Regions from separate parts of the Homo sapiens genome. Here region 1 is linked to region 2. Evidence: fine-mapped expression QTL. Tissue or cell type: thyroid. Region 2 holds a variant in brackets; the other region holds the start of a gene. All regions are shown on one strand. Distances are between the middles of the regions. Region 1 holds the start of GLDC (glycine decarboxylase). Region 2 overlaps GLDC (glycine decarboxylase).

Region 1 (2,925 bases), 36 kb before region 2:
TGTTTTTTTTTGGCAGAAGGCAAATAACATCCATCACCACGGAGCCAAAGGGATCTGGGAATTATTGTTCCCTGGCTTCCAGTCCCTCTGATACATAGAAACAACATAGACAGGAATAGGAATAAATGCAGATTACCTCCTCCCTCCAATCCTTCCCCACAACCCCCACCATCTGGCACTGAGGAGATCTCCCAACTTTTATGAAGGTTGTAATTTCAATTCCAAATGGCCGAAAAACTTTTCGGAGACATTCAGCCCAGCCGTCCTAGCTCACCACCCGCCTCCGTCTGCCATACAGACATTTTACCTACTGTTCTTTGTGGTGTATTTTCCTGCCCTCTTTTCCATCTCTACTTTCCTGCCTCTCTGGATAGTCTGTGCCTCCTGGGTACGGAGCCCAGAATCTGTTAAGGGTGATTGGAGGAGGAAACTTAGCAGATAAGCAAGAAAGAGAACAGGTTTTATTTTCCCCTAGTCTAAGTACAAGTAATGTTCTGATTACTTCTGTCCTCTCTTCCCCATATTAGAACAACTGGAATTTTAAAAGTTCATTCTCTTGCTAAAACTGTCATGAGACAGCTGGAGATGGTACATTTACAAAAAATCCAGTTCTAGATGGCTAACTTTCAAAGTAAGACGACAGTGAACAATGTCTATCTTAATATCCTTTGTACTTTTGCTGGGCGCAGTGGCTCACGCCTGTAATGACGGATCACGAGGTCAGGAGATCGAGACCATCCTGCCTAAAACGGTGAAACCCCGTCTCTACTAAAAATAAAAATAAAAAATGGCCGGCCGTGGTGGCACGTGCCTGTAGTCCCAGCTACTCAGGAGCCTGAGGCAGGACAATCGCTTGAACCCGGGAGGTGGAGGTTGCAGTGAGCCAAGATCGCGCCACTGCACTCCAGCCAGGGCGACAGAGCGAGATTCCGTCTCAAAAACAACAACAAAATATCCTTTGTAGTTTTACACACACACGTATATGTATATACAGTACATATATTTAAAAAAACATATACACACACACACACAGTTCTTTTTTTTTTTTTTTTCCTGAGTCTCGTTCTGTGGCCCACGCTGGAGTGCAGTGGTGCGATCACATCTCACTGCAGCCTGAAACTCCCTGACTCAAGCAATCCTCCCACCTCAGCCTCCAGAGTAGCTGGGACTTCAGAAGCACGCAACCACGCCCCACTAATTTTTGTATTTTTTGTAGAGACAGGGTTTCACAATGCTGCCCAAGCTGGTCTCGAACTCCTGGGCTCAAGCTATCCTACCGCGTCGGTTTCCGAAAGTGTTGCGATTACAGGCGTGAGCCATAGCGTTACATGTGGTGGGGGGGAAGAGAGAGAAAGAGAGAGAGTGAGAAGAAGGAGGAGGAGGAGGAGGAGGAGAAAGAAGGAAGAAAGAAAAGAAAAGAAATATAGAGAGGGTGTTCAAATCTACTGTTCAAGTGCTTTCCATGTACATATAATCTCTTTTTAAAATCCCATCCAGCTCTGTTGAGATGAGAAAACTGAAGCTCTGAGAGGTTGAGTAACTTTATCACGCTCCCGCAAAGATAAAAGAACCGCCATCTGCCCATATTAATTTCCCTGAGATGAAATGTGACAGAGAAAGATACCTCAAAATTAAGGAAATGGAGAGCTTCGAGAATCATCTTCCATCTCCGCCGAGTCCCCCAGGAACTTGGCCCGGAGTCTTTGGGCTGTCCCACCTGATCTTGCCCCAGTGCGGCTCCACACCCTGGCGGGCGGCGTACGGAGCGTCCCGGCCCCCGGCACCAGCCAGCGTCGGAGTGGGTAGGACTGGAGATGGCAGCCTCCGGTCCAGGGGAAGCGGGACTCCACGGAAGGGCTGGGAAGAGGGTAGGAAGAGGGGGCGGGGGCGGGAACTGTTCCGCCCCCTCCCCCTCTGTCTACTTTCATTGGCCAAGGGCTTCCTGGCCCCAACCCACCTCCCGCCTCCAGGGCGCCGCTTAAAGTGTGCGGAGCAGGTGCCTTGGGTGGAGCCACAACTTTGCGCGAGTGTCTTGGTTGAGCGCAGCGCCCATTCATTGCCCGCGAGCGTCCATCCATCTGTCCGGCCGACTGTCCAGCGAAAGGGGCTCCAGGCCGGGCGCAGCCGCCACCCGGGGGACCGAGGCCAGGAGAGGGGCCAAGAGCGCGGCTGACCCTTGCGGGCCGGGGCAGGGGACGGTGGCCGCGGCCATGCAGTCCTGTGCCAGGGCGTGGGGGCTGCGCCTGGGCCGCGGGGTCGGGGGCGGCCGCCGCCTGGCTGGGGGATCGGGGCCGTGCTGGGCGCCGCGGAGCCGGGACAGCAGCAGTGGCGGCGGGGACAGCGCCGCGGCTGGGGCCTCGCGCCTCCTGGAGCGCCTTCTGCCCAGACACGACGACTTCGCTCGGAGGCACATCGGCCCTGGGGACAAAGACCAGAGAGAGATGCTGCAGACCTTGGGGCTGGCGGTAAGGACCTCCACCCGGCCCTCCGCGGCCTCCCCTCCGCCCTGCCCGGGCTCTGCCTGCGCGGCCTCCCGGCTCCTACCCTGAGCTCTGCTGCGCTCCGCGTGGTCCCCGCACCCTGGGTCCCGGGCCGTGGCGTGGAAGCAAATTCGTGCCTTTGGTCCTCGTGCCTTCTTACTTCTTAACAGCTTACTTTCTCCTGCACCCAGTCTTCGTGCCTCAAAAGTGTACATTTTTAAACCACCCCCAGCCCAAGTGGCCCTGTGGATGGACCTAAACTTTGCAAGAGGAGGAAGACCCCCTGATTAAGAGTGGGCTTACCGGTTAGCTCCGGTTGCAACTGAAATCCAACCCCGAGTGGCGGAATCTCCACCCCACTTCACGATTTTCTTTCCTCCAAATCATTCTGGCTTGCTCAGAGTTTTCCTTTTCTTTTAAAAAGAACCCTAATTAGGCGATTTCA
Region 2 (2,720 bases):
GGGTTCAAGCGATTCTCCTGCCTCAGCCTCCTGAGTAGCTGGGACTACAGGCACGTGCCACCACGCCTGGCTAATTGTTTGTATTTTTAGTAGAGACGGGTTTCACCATGTTAGCCAGGATGGTCTCGATCTCCTGACCTCGTGATCCGCCCGCCTTGACCTCCCAAGTAAAATAGGTGAGGTGTGGTAGCTCTCGCCTGTAAGGATGAAGGAACTAAATTGGCTAACTGACATATCCAAAGCCACATTCTTGGCTAATAATTGAAGGAGATAAAGTTAGAATCCATGTTTACGTTGCCTTCTAAACATTTCCATCCTGGAATTTCAATAGCCATAGAGTTAACTGCCATGGACTCTTAGTAACTGGATAATGAGAATTCTTAAGTAGACCTCTATTAATTTCTTAGCATGTAGAACTTCTCCTGGTTAACATAAAACAAATATCCAAATAAATAAATAAAATGTTTGAGTATTACATGTTAGATTCTTGGATGCTTTCCTATTGTAAAATGTGAATGAGGTCTTTTATCTAGGGGAAAGATAATAGCAAATGAAATTTCTGTTTATGATATTATAGGTAGCCTCAAGTGCAGTGGCTCATGCCTATAATGCCAGCATGTTGGCAGGCCGAGGCAGGTGGATTGCTTGAGCTCAGGAGTTCAAGACCAGCTTGGGTAACATGACAAAACCCTGGCTGTACAAAGAATACAAAAATTAGCTGAGCGTGATGGCATGTGCTTGTTGTCCCAGCCACTTTGGAGACTTAGGCCAGAGGATCTCTTGAGCCTTGTACATTGAGGCTCAGTGAGTCGTGATCATGCTATTGCACTCCAGCCTGGGTGACAGAGCGAGACCCTGTCTCAAAAACCAACAAACAAAAAACAAAAAAACAACACCAGAGAGATAGAAAAATAAGTACTGCTTATCCCCAAACAAAGGGTAATATTGTTACTATGATTTAATTCTAAGCTTTACAAAGGCCAAAAAGAAGCTTACTGGTGTGTTATGTAATTCTCCTCAAGATAGGCAAATTATTTTCAGGTACTGAATTCTGAAATGATAGCATTTTGTGTGCTTCTCTAAACAGCAGTCAGTTTGGACAAGACCTTTTGTTTCCCTTGCAGGATCACCCAGTATACTCCATACCAGCCTGA[G/A]GTGTCTCAGGGGAGGCTGGAGAGTTTACTCAACTACCAGACCATGGTGTGTGACATCACAGGCCTGGACATGGCCAATGCATCCCTGCTGGATGAGGGGACTGCAGCCGCAGAGGCACTGCAGCTGTGCTACAGGTGAGAGGCCTCTCAAAGTGCTGGAATTCCAGTTGTGGGCCACCTCGCCTGGCCTTGTTTTCTTTCTATAGTATATTGTGAATATTACTTTAGTCAGCTTTCTAGAGTATGACTTTTCAGAGAAACTGAAAAACTCAACAGGTTCAAAAACCTAGAGGTTGGATATTTCCTCTCAGGGTCCTTCTTGGTGTCTCCACCCGGATTTTGGTTGGGGTTGGGGAAGATCAGACGGGAGGGCTGAGGTTGGCAGGCGAGGGGTAAAGACATCTGCATATTTGGTGAGGGGACTATTTTTGGGAGGAAGGACAGGGAGCCGGTGCCAGGTCCCCCACTGGGAAGTGCTGGCTTGGGGAAGCAGCCAAGCGCAGGCCTGGGGGCTGCGAGGGTGGGCCAGCAGGGTTGTTCAGGGGACAGGGTGAGGTCTCTCAAGGCAGGGCAGTGAGGCTAGGGTGGAAATGTGACCTTAAACAGCTGACTCGGCACCTAGCTTTGGGAGGGCAGAGGGCGGGAGCAGGGGAGGGGGAAGCTCAATTAGGAGTGGACTTTGGATAGATGTGGCTGGGGGTGGGGGTGAGGGTGTTTCAAGGGCAGGTGTGGGTCAGACGTGAGGATCTCCCCCATAACACACACACATGACTGAGTGCCCGGGAGCCTCTCCGTTGTTCCAAACCTTGGCAGCATAGCTGAGTGTAAAGGCATGAGGGTCTCTGTTTGGTGGGGTTGTAAGAGGGTAGTGACAAAGGTCCTGGCACTGTGGTCAAGGGTGGATTCTCAGGCCCATAGAGTAGGACTTCTATTATCTCCATGGCACTTACATGGAAGTGCCATAATTTATTTAATCTCTCGTCTATTACACATATAGTTTATTTCCGTCTCTTACTGTTATTAATAGTACTTCATGTGCATCCTTATAATAAATCTTTGTCAAAACTTCTGATTATTTCCTGAAGAGCCATTTCTGGAAGTGGACTTACTGAATCAGGATGGTTCTCCATTTCTTCTGCTTCCCTTATTTGCCTTGCCAGTACTTAGGAGTGTACCTTCCTGGTGGAATTCTCATGTAGATGGCCATCTGGTTGGGAAAGACGCACACATGCTGGCCGTGTCTTAGGTTTTGTGCTCCTAGCCCTGAATGCCCATGTAAGCCTCTTTTTTGGCTTATGCAGAGTTGGGGTGGGGAGTGAGCTCCATACTTGGTCAGCAAGTTTAGAGGCCTCTGGTGCATTCCAGCCATAGGCCTTTCTGATTCCTGAGCAGCCGTTGGGGGTGGGTTCAGGTTCTCCCTTCTGTCAGGGACACACAGCCACAAAAGAGTGCCATCCACCCACCTCTCTGGTTATTATTCTCAGCTTTTTGCTAATTTTCATCTTCCCTCTTTTTTTAAAAAATTGCTTTTTATCTTATTTCATTTATTTATTTATTATTTATTAA

Evidence for each region. PIP is the estimated chance that this variant, and not a neighbour inherited with it, causes the effect.
Region 1: GLDC starts here. The variant in region 2 is fine-mapped to the expression of GLDC in thyroid (GTEx, PIP above 0.99).

The regions. Positions count from the first base shown.
Region 1 is chr9:6,644,785-6,647,709 of GRCh38, reverse strand. It overlaps GLDC (glycine decarboxylase), which reads left to right and starts at 1,981. Exons shown (of 25, transcript NM_000170.3): 1 at 1,981-2,465. The coding sequence starts at 2,211. RefSeq lists enhancers at 974-1,073, 1,124-1,233, 2,214-2,771 and silencers at 1,904-2,153, 2,224-2,423, 2,464-2,533.
Region 2 is chr9:6,608,761-6,611,480 of GRCh38, reverse strand. GLDC (glycine decarboxylase) reads left to right here. Exons shown (of 25, transcript NM_000170.3): 4 at 1,125-1,289. Among named protein-coding and RNA genes, the nearest start is that of GLDC, 36 kb to the left of the region's middle. The variant G/A (reference allele first, on the strand shown) is at 1,155.